Linked DNA regions of Homo sapiens: region 2 is linked to region 1. The links come from fine-mapping of genetic effects on gene expression. Tissue or cell type: whole blood. Region 1 holds a variant in brackets; the other region holds the start of a gene. All regions are shown on one strand. Distances are between the middles of the regions.

Region 1 (8,000 bases):
TATTACTATAATCATTTCCTGATGAGTTTCCTTTATTCCAGTTTCATCTGCTGCATAGTTTCCAATCAGTTAACTGCAACTCTTATCATGCCTCTTTCTCTAACAAACTACTTTCAGAATAAAGTTTAATATCACCTTGCCTTTCAAAATATCCCTCCAACCTACTTGTTTGTCTTAATGTGAGACATGGTTTTATTTCTGTAGACATTTAATCCCTCTGGTATTTCACATTATTGACCTAAACTTTCACCTGGATGAGTGGGAAAAATCTGACTCAGTAACTTCTTGGGGTCCTCCTCCTGTTCACTCCCTGGGTATTAATATTTCTGGGTTCTGTCCCTCATTTCCCTCTGCATACTCTTTGGGTGATCTTACATCTTGCAACTATTGCATATACACTGTTGCTTTTTAATTTTTGAGACAGAGTCTCACTCTGCCACCCAGGCTGGAGTGCAATGGTGTGATCTTGGCTCACTGCAACCCCTGCCTCCGGGTTCAAGCAATTCTCCTGCTTCAGCCTCCCAAGCAGCTGGGATTACAAGCACCTGCCACCACACCTGGCTAATTTTTGTATTTTTAGGTTTCACCATGTTGGCCAGGCTGGTCTCAAACTCCTGACCTCAAATGATCCACCCACCTGGGCCTCCCCCAAAGTGCTGGGGTTACAGGCATGAGCCACTGCACCCGGCCACTGTTGCTAATTCTTTAATCTATTCCTTTAGCTTAGTATAATGAATCACATTCTGGTCATAACCAATTTGGATATTCCAGAAGACAACCTTGGATTCAGTGTTTAAAAACTGACCTTACTAATGTTTTCCAGAAACCATTTCCTATATAACTTACCTCAGTGAAAGGTAGTCACCCACCCAAATCAGAATCCTGAGCACCCATCATATTTCACTTTACTTTCAACCCCCATATTAAATCAATGACCCAGTCCTGTTGGTTCCACCCTTTTTATAGAGATACGGTCTTACTACATTGCCTAGGCTGGTTTCCAACTCCAGACTCAAGTGATACTCCTGCCTTAGCCTCCAGAGCAGCTGGAAGTACAGGTGTGAGCCACTGTGCCCAGTTGGTTCTGTCCTTTTAAGTATCATTAACATGTCCCACCCCCTGCCCCCCCAACCTTTTCACACCCTTATGCTATCATTTTAGTTTAGGCTCTCATTATTTATTGCCTGAGTTATTCCAAGTCCCTGTCTCTAATCTTGATTATTTCCACTACACCTCAAGTGCTATTGCTAAGATGGATTCCAAACTCCTTACTGCATATGGAAAACCTCATGATTTGGGCCTTGCCCCTTCTGTAGCCTCAATTTTCTGTACCTCTTCCCTTACTTTCAGTTTCCTCTAGACTTTTGTTTACGATGTGCTCCACTCCATCACACTATACATTTTATGGATGTGCTGTTTCATTTAGCATATCTCTAGCATCTGTATCATAGTAGTTGGTACAGAGGTGTTAAATCAGTATCTAAAGAATAAAAGTGAAATAACATCTGGAATGGTCTGTTCGCCTCTCCCAAACCCAATTGCCAGTAAATATCTACTCATTTTTCAAAACACGGCTCAAAAGTGATTTGACTTGCGTGAACCATTTCTCAACACCTTGCAAATAAACCATTCTGTATTGTGTGTCTTCACTATATTTTGTGAAAACTATCTGAGATACGTCACTTTACTGAATTACTAGATTATAAGCTCCTGGAGAGTCTGTCAATGGAATCATCACTGCTTGGCTGTGGTATTAAATTTTGTTCATTAAATCTTGGCATGTTAGAGTAATAACTAGCTATTCTATGTAAGATATGTACAAATGTTGGGTTATTGACATTTCAGGAACAGCGATAGATTTGCATTTGGCAGCTCTGTGAATCTCTGTATACATGCATCTGTAAGGGGCAGGCACTATGGAACTTTTGCCTCAATGCAAAGTGAGTTGACCTTTATGAATACCAAACCAGGCACATCTTGGCTTCATTAATTCCACTCTCCAACAAACACAGTTGAAAACAGTTACAAAAGCAATACCCGTTTACTAAAGACATTTTCAGATATTTACAGATCAATTTCTCACATCTATTTCTATAACTTGACTTTGAAGTTTATTATAATCATATTACTATTCTGAATTTTAAAAGGTCCAGAGAATGTAAACAAATTCTATCTTTAAAAAGGCTTACTGACAACTGCAGACTCAAAGTGGCTACAAAAGGAAAAGTATTGTAAACATTTGTCTCTTAACTCTAGGCACTAATCTCCTAAACCAGTTCAACTTGATAAGGAAAAAGACTTGAGATTCACTCATTTATAACTTAGTTAGCAATGTCATTGATCATTAAAGATATGGAAGAATAATGGAAAACTGGATTTTTCACTAATGCAAAATTAACAACAATACCTCGACCCCCATTAAATATACAGATGCCACCATCTCTTCCATCATGGATTTTATTTCTTCTTAGTGTAGGATTACTATCTGTCTTAATCCAGACTCCAGCCATTGCATTGTCAAATATTTCATTGTCTTCTATACAGCCTAGACCTATAAATGCAAAAATGTAGGTTATCTAGAAGGTATATTTCTTTTTAATTTTTTTTTTTTTTTTTTTTTTTGAGACAGAGTCTCGCTCTGTTGCCAGGCTGGAGTGTGCAGTGGCGCGATCTTGGCTCACTGCAACCTCCACCTCCCGGGTTCAAGTGATTCTCCTGCCTCAGCCTCCCAAGTAGCTGGGAATACAGGCGTGTGCCACCATGTCCAACTAATTTTTGTAATATTTAGTAGAGACAGGGTTTCACCATGTTGGCCAGGCTGGTCTTAAACTCCTGACCTCGGGTGATCCACCCATCTCGGCCTCCCAAAGTGCTGGGATTACAGGCGTGAGCCACCGTGCCCGGCCTAGAAGGTGTATTTCTAAAGTTTATTAACACAGAAAAAAGATGACAGATTAAACATACCAGAATTATAAACTAGAATTCCACCATTCTGTCCTCCCCAGATTTTGTTGCGTCTAATTTTGGGGTTGCTTCCAGTCCTGTAAACAGAATAGACAATAATACCATTTCAATAGCTTCTACTCCCATATCTTCATGTTACGTGAGGTAAACAGTGGAGAAATCCACATAAGTCACTTAGTAAGAATTAACTATACAATGGAGTCCAAGATGCCCTGAGAAGAAAGTGGTTTAATTTTGCTTAATCCTGTATTTCCCACAGAACATACTTTACTACAGATTATTATTGTAGAGTTTCCTAACATGTAAACTAAATGGGGTTATATTAAGTGACATATATTCCCCTCATATGTAAAATGAAGGACTGAATTACAGGCATGCCTTGGAGATAACTGCAGGTTCCGTTCCAGACCACCATAATAAAGCGAGTATTGCAATAAAGAGAGTCGCATCAATTTTTTGGTTTACATTATACTGTAGTCTATTAAGTATGCAATAGCATTTCATAAAAAAAAGCACATACCCTAACTTAAAAATACTTTATCGCTAAAAAAATGCTCATAACAATCTAAGCCTTCAGGGAGTCTTTTTTTTTTTTTTTTTTTAAAGACATGGGGTCTTGCTCTGTCACCCAGGCTGGAGTTGCAGTGGCATGATCATAGCTCACTGCAGCCTCGAACTCTTGGGCTCAAGCAATCCTCCTGCCTAAGCCTCCCGAGTAGCTGGGACTACAGGTGCACACCACCATGCCCAGTTAATTTTTGTATTTTTTGTAGAGATGGAGTTTTGCCATGTTGCCCAGGCTGTTCTCAAACTCCTGGGCTCAAGTGATCCACCTGTCTCAGTCTCCCAAAGTGCTGGGATTACAGGCATGATCTACTGCACCTGACCAACTGGCAATCTCTTAAAATAA[G/A]ACAATTAAGTTTGCCACATAGACTGACTCTTCCTTTCACGGAAGATTTCTCTGTAGCATGCAATGTTGTTATAGCATTTTGCTCACAGTAGAATTTCTTTCAAAATTGTTGTCAATCCTTGCCAACCCTGCTACTACTTTATTAACAGGCTTATGTAATATTCTAAATCCTTTGTCTTCATTTCAACTATGTTCACAGCATCTTCAACAGGAACAGACCCCACCTCAAGAAAAACCACTCTTTGCTCATCCGTAAGAAGCAACTCCTCATCTGTCCAAGTTTTATCATGAGGTTGCAGCAATTCAGTCACATCTTCATGTTCCATTTTCTAATTCTACTTCTCTTGCAATTTCTACCACGTCTGGAATTAGTTCCTCCACCAAAGTCTTATACCCCTAAAGTCATCCATGAGGGTTGGAAGCAACTTCTTCCAAACTCCTGTTAATTTTTTTTTGTCCTGGCCATAAAAACGTTTATTTTTGTATTTAGGTTTGATGAATGAACATCCACGCAGAAATGTGATTGGACACAAAGGATCTGGCCTAACGGTGATGGACAGAGTCGGGAAACCCAGCAAAGCCGCTCTGTACAATTCCCCTTCCCCTGGGTATCCCCCTCGGGAATGAGGATCTTCCAGGGAGAAGGGAGAGAGTGACCTAGCTAGGTTTTATGGCTGGGTTTGAGAGAAAGGAATTCTAGTTTCTAAGACCTGCTTTGAGGAAAAGGAATTCTGGTTTCTGGGACTCAATTTGGGGGAGAAAAGGAGGCAGGAACCAGGAGGGAAGGACAAAGACCTGGCTTCTGAGGCCTTCCAGTCTCCTCTGGGTCAGAGTAGTCCGCATGCCAAGGTGCCATACTTCGGGGTTTAATGAGCCCTGACAGCAGGTCCTTGCAGATTTCACAGGTAACTTGTGATCCAAGTAACTGGCTTTCAGACCCCCAATTTCAGAGGACTTTAGCAAAGCCTGGTTGAAATTGGCCAAGTGTTAGAAGAACCTCTTCAAAGCTGAAATTCATAGAGTTCTTCAGCTGAGGGCGTAAGAATCCCAGATGTAAGGTTAGCGAGAGTTAGAAGTTCTGGAGTCTTCCCCGCATGCCCCAGCTCTTGAGCATCAACGGGCCAGAAGCTCACAATATCTGATCCTCCTGTGGCTCAGCAGGGATGTGTTTTAGAGCAGCATGTTCAGAATGAAACTGGCGCACTTAGTCAAGCCTCGAGGGCCTTTTGAAGCCATGCATGGCCCACGCTGGCCTCATGGGAACACAGGTGCTCCAGCACCCGATGTGTTCACGACTAGGTAGGGGGAACCTTCAGCCCTGAAAACATCCCCCTGCTGTCTAGATCAGCCTGCCCCATGGCCAAGGGCGGTGAGAACCCTGGCGACCCCTTGGGTTGCACCTCTGCCAGTACTACAATTTTGCACTTTGTGGGCAGAAAAGCTCAACATTTGGCTCAGGGCATAACTGCAATTTTTTTTTGTTTTGTTCTGTTTTTTGAGACAGGGTCTCACTCAGTCATCCAGGCTGGAGCACAGTGGTATAATCATAGCTCAGTGCCGCCTCGACTTCCTGGGCTCAAGCGATCCTCCCACCTCAGCCTTCCGGGTAGCTGGGACCACAGGCGCATGCCACCATGCCTAGCTAATTTTTTCTATTTTTTACAGAGACAGGGTTTTGCTATGTTGCCCAGGCTGATCTTGAACTCCTGGCCTCAGGAGATCCTTCCACCTCAGCCTCCCAAAATGCTTGGATTACAGCACTTTTTCAGATCTCCTCCCAGGAATCATGAATGTTCTTAATGAAATCTGGAATGGTGAATCCTTTCCAGAGGTTTTCAATTTACTTTGCCCAGATCCATCAGAGGAATCACTATCTATGGCAACTACTGCTTTCTAAAAAGTATTTCTTACATACAAAGACTTAAAAATTGAAATCACTCCTTGATCCAGACTGTGGGATGGATGCTGTATTAGCAGGCGTGAAAACAACAATCTCCTTGTGCATCTGCATCAGAATTCTTGGGTTACTGGGTGCATTGTCAATGAGCAGTAATATTTTGAAATATTTTTTCTGAGCACTAGGTCTCAGTGGACTTAACATATTCAGTAAACTGTACTGTAAATTCATGTGCTATCATCCATGATTTGTTGTTCCCTTTATAGCGCACAGGCAGAGTAGATTTAGCATAATTCTTAAGGGCCCTAGGGTTTTCATAATGGTAAATGAGCACTGCCTGCAACTTAAAGTCATCAGCTTAACTAACCCTTAACAAGAGATCAGCTTGCCCTTTGAAGTCAGGCATTGACTTCTCCCCTCTAGCTATGAATGTTCTGGATGCATCTTCTTCCAATATAAAACTATTGAGTCTACACTGAAATCTGTTTAGTGTAGCCACCTTCAACAATGATCTTAGCTATATCTTCTGGGATAACTTTCTGTAGCTTCTATCTCAGCATTTGCTGCTCCACCTTGCACTTAGCTTTTTTTCTTAAACCTCATGAATCAACCTCTGCTAGCTTCAAACTTTTCTTCTGCAGCTTCTTCACCTCTTTCAGCCTTCATAGAACTGAAGAGAGTTGGGTCCTTGCTCTGGATTAGGAATTGGCTTAAGGGAATGTTGCGGCTGGTTTGTTCTTCTATCCACATCACTAAAACATTCTCCATATTAGCATAAGTCCATTTTTTTGTTATTATTTTATTTTGCTTTGAACCCTGAGAAACTAAGCAATAAGGTTGTTTTGCTTTGCTTTATCATTCATGTGTTTACTGGAATAGCATTTTTAATTTCTTTCTAGGACTTTTCCTTTGCATTCACAACTTAGCTAACTGGACAAGAGGCCTAGCTTTTGGGCTATTCAGCCTTTAGACATACTTTCCTCACTAACCTTCATCATTTCTAGCTTTTGATTTAAAGTGAGAGATACGCAACTCCTCCTTTCACTTCAATACTTATAGAGGCCATTTGAGGATTACTAATTGGCCTAATTTCGATACTGTTGTGTCTCAGGCAATAGGGAAGCCTGAGGAGAGGGACAGAGATGGGAATGGCTGCTTGGTGGAACAGTCAGAACACACACAACGTTTACAGATGAAGTTTGTTATCTTGGGCGCAGTTAATGGTGTCCCAAAACAATTACAATAGTAACATCAAAGATCACTGATCAGGGTGGGTGTGGTGGCTCACGCCTGTGATCCCAGCACTTTGGGAGGCTGAGGCGGGTGGATCACCTGAAGTCAGGAGTTTGAGACCAGCCTGACCAATATGGAGAAACCCCATCTCTACTAAAAATACAAAGTCAGCCAGGCATGGTGGCACAAGCCTGTAATCCCAGCTACTTGGGAGGCTGAGGTTGCGGTGAGCCGAGATCGTGCCATTGCACTCCAGCCTGGGCAACAAGAGTGAAACTCCGTCTCAAACAAACAAAAAGGATCACTGATCAGAGATCACCATAACAGACATAATGATAATGAAAAAATGAGACACAGAGACAGGAAGTGAGCACATGCTGCTGGAAAAAAATGGCAGAGAGATCTGCTCAACACAGTATTGCCACAAAACTTCAATTTGTGAAAAAACACAGTATCTGTGAAGCACAATGAACTGTAAAGTGTAATAAACAGAGGTAAGCCAGTATATGATCATTAGTACTGCTAGAATTCCAAAAACTTAAAATATTAGAGGGGTATCAAAAACTATTAATTTTACAGAAATAGCATAAAACAGAAGCTTCATTTTATTGAGTGCCAATGATATGCCAGGCATAATGCACAAGTATTTTAACACAGACTTCCACTCTCCAAGTATGAAGGATCATATTGGCAGCTGATGTGACTCTCATAGTGGAAAGCAGAACGGTGGAAGTGAGCTCTTATGGCACATGTGCCAGTGGCTTCTGTCCTCACCTAGACCAAGGAAAGCTACATTCTGACAATTTAAGTCAAGATTATTTTAAGAATGTGAATATATATACAATAGGGGGATAAAGATTGGGCATTAAACAATAAGCAAATTTCTTTTACACACCCCACATACTCCTAACTCCCTCCCAAAAGATAGCCAAATATGAAAACATTTACCTTATCTGAACCCCTGAATACATATGATTATAGATATCATTGTCTTCT
Region 2 (9,348 bases), 32 kb before region 1:
TGGCCAGTTGGTGATTTATTTGTATAACTGTCCAATTTATTGAATACGTATGGCGTGCCAAGCACTGGGCTGAGGGCTTCATAATGCCCTTTCACTCAATGCTTAGCACAACCCATGAAGAAGGTAGTGTTAATATCATCCCTGTTTTACAGATGTAGAAACTGAGGCACAGGCTAAATAACTTGCCCAACAAGCTCGTGCAGTTTAGTAAGCAGCTCAGCTGGGATGTGAACACAAACTTTGAATACAGAGCTCTTAACCAGTAGGCCAGAGGTTCCCAAACACCTAGTATATTTACTACCTTAGTACTTTCCTGCCACATCTCCTAGGCCAAAACAACTCCATTGATTGTTATGCAATTTACTAAGTGTAGCCATTTGAAAAAAAAATACATATAAAAGAAAAATATTTTTATTCAGTTTTCAAAATAACCCATATATAGTCATGGAATGTATGTGTTGGTTGGGCACTGCAGACTAAAGACAGTTTAGGGCCGGGCACGGTGGCTCAGGCCTGTAATCCTAGCACTTTGGGAGGCCAAGTAGAGAGAAGGGCTTGAGCCCAAGAGTTGGAGACCGGCCTGGGCAACATAGCAAGACCCAGTCTCTACAGAAAATAAAATTATCAGGGTGTGAGGACGCACACCTGCAGTCTTAGCTGCTTGGGAGGCTGAGGCTGGAGGATCAGCCTGGGCAACAGAGTGAGACCCTGTCTCAGAAAAAAAAAAAAAAAAAGACAGACTTTTATTCAGATATGCATGCAGGAGTTCACAGAAAAAAAAAGTGAGTCCAGGAGGCTGTTATTTGGCATTTATACAACTTTTTTTTTCTTGAATCTCGAAATCTACTTTATATATACCATTTAATAGGGGAAGAGGAGGGAGAAAAAGCCTTCCATGGGAAGAACAAATAGGTTTCTGGGGGAACAAAAGGGAGATAAGAATGTTTGTTTTTGCAGGTGCAAGTGGTCTTTGTCTTTTTTTCTGGCCACTAAAACTCCCCTAGAGAGGAGATTTACGGCAGCTTCACTCCCAGAAATTTCTGCTGTTAGTCGCATAAGGGAAGCTTTGAAACGGCATCTTTCTGCATCTGTTGGCTCTCAAATGTCTTCAGTTCCAAGTAACATTCATGCCAATTCTGGGGGTCTGAGTGTCCCCACATAATACATGTGTTCTCTTGTCTTTTAATGAAGTTTGTGGGAGGCATCTAACTGTAGCCTCCAAAATTTGGCCCATAGGTACTACTGTCCTTATCAAAGACGAGGAAACAAGTTCAGAAAAGTATTAATTGCTCCGAGTTATCTGCTTGGCTAGCTAGGATCAGAGCTCAGTTCTCCATTTAACCCAAAGCCCAGGCTCTTAACCTCTTACAACTGGCGCATCCCCTCTGAACCTCCATTTCCTCCCTGTAAAAGAATAACATCGGCCGGGCGCAGTGGCTCACATCTATAATCCCAGCACTTTGGGAGGCAGAGATGGGCGGATCACGAGGTCAGGAGTTTGAGACCAGCCTGGCCAACATGGTGAAACCCCATCTCTACTAAAAATACAAAACTTAGCTGGGTGTGTTGGTGCCTGTAACCCCAGCTACTCAGGAGACTGAGGCAGGAGAATTGCCTTAACCTGGGAGGCGGAGGTTGTGGTGAGCCAAGATCGTGCCATTGCACTCCAGCCTCGGTGACAGAGCAAGACTCCATCCCCAAAAAAACAAACAACAACAACAAAAAGAGAATAACGTTATATTCAGTTGAACCAAAATGAATTAAATATTAATATTTGTACTTCAAAAACGGTCCAGCTTGGCTGGGCGCAGTGGCTCCCGCCTGTAATCCCAACATTTTGGGAGGCCGAGGCAGGAGGATCATTTGAGGTCAGGAGTTTGAGACCAGCCTGGCCAACATGGTGAAATCCTGTCTCTACTAAAAATACAAAAATTAGCTGGGCAGTAGTAGCGCGTGCCGGTAATCCCAGCTATTCAGGAGGCTGAGGAAGGAGAATTGCTTGAGCTTGGGAGGTGAAAGTTGTGGTGAGCTGAGACTGCACTACTGCACACCAGTCTGGGAGACAGAGTAAGACCCTGTCTCAAAACAAAACAACCAAAAAACCAAAAAGGTCCAGCTTGGGCAACATAGTGAAACTTCGTCTCTACAGAAAATTTTTAAAATACTAGCAGGGCACCGGGCACAGTGGCTCATACCTGTAATCCCAGCACTTTGGGAGGCTGAGGCAGGCGGGTCACTTGTGGTCAGGAGTTTGGGATCAGGCAGGCCAACATGGTGAAACCGTGTCTCTACTAAAAAACAAAAATTAGCTGGGCATGGTGGTAGGCACCAGTAATCCTAGCACTCAGGAGGCTGAGGCATGAGAATTGCCTGAACCCGCAAAGCAGGGGTTGCAGTGAACCAAGATGGCGTCACTGTACTCCAGCCTGGGTGACAGAATAAGACTCCTCAATTAAAAAAAAAAAAAATTAGCTGGGCATGGTGTTGCGGGCCTGTGGTCCCAGGTACTCAGGAGGCTGAGGTGAGAGGATTACTTAAGCCTGGGAGGTTGAGGCTACAGTAAGCCAAGATCACGCCACTATACTCCAGCCTCTGTGACAGAGCCAGACCCTGTCTCAAAAAAATTTTAAAAAGGGCAAATTTTGGCAATTTCACATAGTTCAACCTAGTATAAGGTGGTTGTAATAACTAAATGAGATAAAATGGTGTTAAATTGGAAGTATTATAGTATTTCTGTTAACAACATAGGGCTCCAGAACCAGCTTCCTTGAGTTTAAATCCAGGCTCCACCACTTCCTAGCTATGCAGTCATGGGCAAGTTACTTGACCCAACTGTGCCTCAGCTTCATCCATGATATGGAGATACAGGATAACCAGCCTCTTACGTGCAATTCTGAAATCCAAAAAGCTCTGTAAACCAAAAGTTTGGGGGTAAACTCATTTGGTAGCAAATTTTGACCTGAGGCTATTTATAGTCTATATTCTGTATTCTTTCTACTTAGTATGAATAAGCATGTAAGTTTTACTGCATGTTTGATTTCAGCATGTTCCCCCAGACTCTCTGGGGGTGTTTACGTATGCCGGTGGGGGAAAGAGACCAACTCTCAAATATTATCTCAAACAGTTGGTTTCACTGTGCTTGCTTGGGTAGCACATATACCAAAATTGGAATGACCCCTGCACAGGGATGAAATGCAAATTCGTGAAGCATACTGTATTTTTCTTAGCACATACCACCTTTGGCAATATTCTTTTTTTTTTTTTGAGAGGGAGTCTTGCTCTGTCGCCCAGGCTGGAGTGCAGAGGCGCGATCTCGGCTCACTGCAAGCTCCGCCTCCCGGGTTCACACCATTCTCCTACCTCAGCCTCCCCAGTAGCTGGGACTACAGGCGTGTGCTACCACGCCAGGCTAATTTTTTGTATTTTTAGTAGAGGCGGGGTTTCACTGTGTTAGCCAGGATGGTCTCGATCTCCTGACCTCGTGATCCGCCCACCTCCGCCCCCCCCCCGAAGTGCCGAGTGCTGGGACTACAGGCGTGAGCCACTGCGCCCGGCCCCCGCCTTTTTTTTTTAGATTGATTTTATTACTTGCCTAGCAAAGGAGAACCTTCTGGCAGAACAGTCTCCAAGAACAAGGCAAACAACTAATTTTACATAGGTTTTTACCAATGTACAGCTGTTGATTGTGACTGGTTTCCGGCAATCTGGATTTCACAATCTGGATAAGGGGACAAACAATTGTCTGTCTTCCACTATCTTTCTTGAATTTGAATAGAACCTTTTTATTCTCATAGCCTCTTAGCTTTCTTTCTTTTTTTTTTGAGACGGAGTTTCGCTCTTGTCGCCCAGGCTGGAGTGCAGTGGCGCGACCTTGGCTCACTGCAAACGCTGCCTCCCAGGTTCAAGTTATTCTCCTGCCTCAGCCTCCCAAGTAGCTGGGATTACAGGCGCATGCCACCACGCCCGGCTAATTTTTGGATTTTTAGTAGAGACGGGGGTTTCACCATGTTGACTAGGCTGGTCTTCAACGCCTGACCTCAGGTGATCCGCCCGCCTCGGCATCCCAAAGTGCTGGGATTACAGGCGTGAGCCACTGCGCCCGGCCTCTCATAGTCTCTTAGCTTTCTAAAATTTGAAAAATCCTGTAAAGACACACCTGGGTCAAAGGGCTCAGATAACGGACTGTGGCCCTTAAGTACTTACGTCACAGGTTATTGAGAGGATCGATTTAGTTACCAGATGTAAAATGCTGGGATCAGTGCCTGGCAAAGGAAAACTTTGTACAGCTGCAGGCTTTCACCATACACAACAGCATCGCTAACGAATGCTATTACAATATTCATTTAGCGTTTACCAAGTGCCTACTCTATACAAATCTTGAGAATACAACGTGAAGGTGAACTGCTGACTAAAGTTTGGTCCCTTTCGCTCCGTCTCCTTGCGAAAATGCTCTAACGGCAGGAGGTCACGCGAGCGCTGGACGCGTTTCTCCCCGCGAGCCCCTTTCCGAGGCCTTTCGGGTCCCCCCGGTTATCCCCGCCCGGGCGGTGCGCGCCCCCGCTGTTCCCGCTTCCGCTCCAGAGAGGCAGGGCTTTCCGAGCCTGCTAGCCCCGCGGCCGCAACTAACCCCGGGTCGGAGTGTTCCGGCCCGGCCAGCCCCGCGGCGTGAGGGAAGGGGAGCTCAGCAGTTCCCCGCGCGGGGCCCAGGCGTCGGCGGCAGGGCGGGCCCCTCACCGCCAGCGTGCCAGCCCCGCCCCTACCCACCAGTGTGCCAGCCCCGCCCTTCCCCACGTCGCCGCGCGCCCGGGGGCGGGGCCTGGCGCGCACCGCCCGCGCACGGCGAGGCGCCTGTTGATTGGCCACTGGGGCCCGGGTTCCTCCGGCGGAGCGCGCCTCCCCCCAGATTTCCCGCCAGCAGGAGCCGCGCGGTAGATGCGGTGCTTTTAGGAGCTCCGTCCGACAGAACGGTTGGGCCTTGCCGGCTGTCGGTATGTCGCGACAGAGCACCCTGTACAGCTTCTTCCCCAAGTCTCCGGCGCTGAGTGATGCCAACAAGGCCTCGGCCAGGGCCTCACGCGAAGGCGGCCGTGCCGCCGCTGCCCCCGGGGCCTCTCCTTCCCCAGGCGGGGATGCGGCCTGGAGCGAGGCTGGGCCTGGGCCCAGGCCCTTGGCGCGCTCCGCGTCACCGCCCAAGGCGAAGAACCTCAACGGAGGGCTGCGGAGATCGGTAGCGCCTGCTGCCCCCACCAGGTAGCGGGGTGGGGGTGGGGTCGAAGGCGGGGGCATAGCGGCGGGGCGCTTGGAACCCGGCGAGGGGAGGCTCGCACAGGGGGTTGGGGGGGTGCACGGCCTGGCCCTGGGCTCGGAGGAGGCGGGGCCGCAGAGTTGGCTTGAATGAGTGCAGGGGTCGAGTCTGGAGCATTTGGGGGTGTAGCTTGTAAACAGGGTCGGAGGAGAGAGGCTGTGCAGGAAGAGGGCTGCAGGGGAGACGCGGAGAGTTCGGGCCTTTTGGAGGGAGGAGACGCGTCCCGCCAGGTGGGGGTGCTGGGCTAAGGAAGGGGCGACGCGCGCAGCTCCGGGTGGGGAGGGGGCCTGGGAGGTGGGAGCACTGGGGGTGGGGCGAGAAGGGGAAGGCGCCCGGCCCACTTGGTGGGCGGGGCGGGGGGCGGGGTGGCGGGAAGGAGGAATGCCTGCGGGAGGCCGAACGGGGAGAGTCCGGTGGTGTGGGGTGCGAAAGGAGGTTCCTCGGCCGGCGCGGAGATAGTGAGTTGGGGCTCCAGTAGTCGATCGAGGTAGACACTTAGAGGTAGTTAAGAGCCGCGGTCGCCGAGACGCCTTGGGGACGGTGGGCCTTCGGCCTAGGTGAGGGGCCGCCGAGGGGGTGGGCCACGAGCTGCGAGCGCGGGGGGGTGTGTCACCATGGGGACCGCGGGGCCTAATTGGGCGGGGCGGGGCCGTGGGGAGCCGAAGTGCTGGGATCCGGCTGGGTCCTTCGGTAGGTAGGCTGCACGTGCACCGAGACGAAGATAGAATATTTTGACGTATGTGGAAATTCGTGTCGAGTGGAAAATATTTTATTTTATGAAATAGTGTAATTTTTATGGGGCACCACTGGGCTTTTAGAGGCCTTAATCGGGCGCTGGACAAAGATGTGTGGACGTGAGTGACTCCGGGGAAGCCTGTCGGGAGTTGTCCTCACTTTATGGGCAGTTAAGTGCTTTTTTTTTTTTTTCCTTTTTGAGAGAGAGTTTCGCTCAAGTCCAGGCTGGAGTGCAATGGCGCGATCTCAGCTCACCGCAATCTCCGCGTCCCGGCTTCAAGCGATTCCCCAGCTTCAGCCTCCCGAGTAGTCGGGATTACAGGAATGCGCCCCCACACCCCGCCAATTTTGTATTTTTAGTAGAGACGGGGTTTCTCCATGTTGGTCAGGCTAGTCTCGGAATTCCCGACCTCAGGTGATCCACCCGCCTCGGCCTCAAAGTGCTGGGATTACAGGCGCTAGCCACCGCGCCCGGTCTGTTTAGGGCTTTTTATCCGGGCAGCTGGCGACATTTTGAAAAGCTTGCTTTTGCTGTTTGCCAGATACATATATATGTATTTTGAGACAGAGTCTTGCTCTTTTGTCCAGGCTAGAGTGCAGTGGCGCGTTCTTGGCTCACCACAACCTCTGTCTCTGGATCAAGAGATTATCCTGCCTCAGCCTCCCAAGTAGCTGGGACTACAGGTGCGCCCCACCACGCCTGGCTAATTTTTGTATTTTTAGTAGAGACGGGTTTCACTATGTTGGCCAGGCTGGTATCGAACTCCTGACCTCTTGATCGGCCCGCATTGGCCTACCAAAGTGCTGGGATTACAGGCATGAACCACCGAGCCCGGCCGTTTGTCAGATACTAAACACAAAGTTTAATGGTCGCTATTTGAACAAACGAAGAAATAAAGGCTCAGAAAAAATAACTCATTCAAGATAAGAGCCAGTTCGTGTTTTTTGTTTGGTTTTGTTTTGAAATGGAGTCTCGCTCTGTCGCCCAGGCTGGAGTGCTGTGGCGCTTTCTCGGCTCACTGCAACCTCTGCCCGCCGGGTTCAAGTGATTCTCCTGCCTCAGCTTCCCGAGTAGCTGGGATTACGGGTGTGCCCACCGCGGTCCGGCTGATTTTTCACCATGGAGTTTCACCATGTTGGCCAGGCTGGTCTTGAAACTGCTGACCTCAAGTGGTCCACCCACTTCAGCCTCCCAAAGTGCTGGGATTACAGGTGTGAGCCACCGTGCCCGGCCGCTAGTTAGTGGTTTTGAGTAATGGATTTCAAATCCATTTAAATCCAGTTTAAAGTGTCCTAAAGGAATTCTGAGATTTTTCTAAGTGTAATTATAGTGTTACCCTTGTTTAAGCGACCCTTTCCCGCAGTTTAAATATATATAGTTGTGCATTAGTAGAATATGCTTGTGGGGAACAGAGCCAGCATCCGCAATAACAAACTCCTGGTTAGAAAAGCATGACGTATTGTTTACTTGAGCATGAATTGATTGTTGAATCCAAACCAAACGGGTGTATTTATTGTAAGGATGTACTTTACATTCATATTGAATAGCGTATGTTATTTGTTTCTTGAGGTTGAGTTTAAGAGACTTGTAAAAATAAAACGTATACATTTCACCTCCCGTTATGGAGAGGATTCCAGGGTATTCAAGAAAGATGGGCATTTGATACTAGGTTTCTAAAGAAACTGCAGTGTCTAGATCACTCTGCCGAGCACAGCATTAGGCATTATGGATCCTGGATACAACCATGAACAGGACAAAGCAAAGAGGCAATTGTAGACTCCAAGTGGAAAGGGGACGGAGAGGATGCGGGTCAGGCTAGGCTCTCAGCTCTGTAAACCGAAACCAGAAGGACAAATAAGCTTAGACAGATTATAGTGAGAGTGGGAAGCTGGTTCAGGAAGAGGAAGGTCTGCAAATTGTGGGTAGGATGAAAGGAGGAGGAGGGAGCATTGGAGAAGTTAAGCAGAGATCCAATCATGAACAGTCTGATGAGCTACAGAGACATTCGGACTTACTCCATGAATCATTTAAGCCTTAAAACATGTTGAGCGTATTTTTTTTTTTTTTGAGACGGAATTTCACTCTTGTTGCCCAAGCTGGAGTGCAGTGGTGTGGTCTCAGCTCACTGCAACCTCCGCCTCCTGGGTTCCAGCGATTCTCCTGCCTCATCCTCTCAAGTACCTGGTATTACAGGTGCCTGCCACCACGCCCAGCTAATTTTTGTGTTTATAGTAGAGACGGGTTTCACCATGTTGGTCAGGCCAGTCGTGAACTCCTGACCTCAGGTGATCCACCCACCTCAGCCTCCCAAAGTGTTGGGATTACAGGCGTGAACCACCGCACCTGGCCGTGAGCCACCGTGTCTGTCCGAGCATCTTTTAATGTTTGTCATTTAGATTTCTTCTTGTGCTGAAGTGTTTGTCTTTTGCTGTTTCTTTTTTTTTTCCTAGTTCTTTGTCATTTGTGTGTGATATAAATGTCTTCTTTCACAATGAGTTCTTTCATTTAGTTTATGGCTTTGTTGTTGTTGTTGAATAATAGAGGTCTCACTTTGTTGCCCAGGCTGGTGTTGAACTCTTGCTCTCAAGCGATCCTCCCACTTCAGCCTCCCAACCTGTTGGGATTACAAGTGTGAGCCACCACACCCAGCCTTATGGCATCTTTCGATGAACAAATTATTGATTATAATGTGGAATTTGTCCTTTTATTTTCTCTGTGGTTAGTGTTTCTATAGGTTTTATTTAAGAAATCCACAGGGAGGCTGGGTGCAGTGGCTCATGCCTGTAAACCCAACACTTTGGGAGGCCAAGGCAGGCCAACATGGCTAGACCCTGTCTCTCCAAAAAATAAGAAAATTAGCCAGGCATGGTGGCGTGTGCCTGTAGTCCCAGCTTCTTGGGAGACTGAGATGGGAGGATCGCTTGAGTCCAGGAGGTTGAGGCTGCAGTAAGCCAAGAGATCATGCCATGCACTCCAGCCTGGGTGGCAGAGTCAGACCCTGTCTGCCAAAAAATAAAATAAAAGTTGGTGAAAATGTTGATTATATATTTTAGGAACAACTAGTAATTGACATCAAAATTATGGGCTAAAGAGAAAGCAAAAATAATGTGATTTTAAACCAGAATTCAAAAGATCTGTTTAGCGTATGTTTAGACAAAGCCATTACTTATTATATCAAAGTTTTAACATTTATTTTGTGAGCTGTCAGCTTTTCCTCTTAACATTTTTCCCCACCGTCTTAAAAAACCCCAAGAATACCGGACATTTAAGACTCACTTAAAGCTTTAAAAGCACTTGCAAAATCCTA

The links. PIP is the estimated chance that this variant, and not a neighbour inherited with it, causes the effect.
Region 2: MSH6 starts here. The variant in region 1 is fine-mapped to the expression of MSH6 in whole blood (TOPMed, PIP 0.95).

What each region holds. Positions count from the first base shown.
Region 1 is chr2:47,810,827-47,818,826 of GRCh38, forward strand. It overlaps FBXO11 (F-box protein 11), which reads right to left. Exons shown (of 23, transcript NM_001190274.2): 16 at 7,953-8,000; 17 at 2,965-3,041; 18 at 2,408-2,551. Among named protein-coding and RNA genes, the nearest start is that of MSH6, 32 kb to the left of the region's middle. RefSeq lists enhancers at 5,005-5,074, 5,235-5,284. The variant G/A (reference allele first, on the strand shown) is at 3,875.
Region 2 is chr2:47,778,244-47,787,591 of GRCh38, forward strand. MSH6 (mutS homolog 6) reads left to right here and starts at 4,902. Exons shown (of 10, transcript NM_000179.3): 1 at 4,902-5,250. The coding sequence starts at 4,991. RefSeq lists silencers at 3,143-3,324, 4,475-4,954, 5,235-5,394, 5,595-5,684 and an enhancer at 4,275-4,344.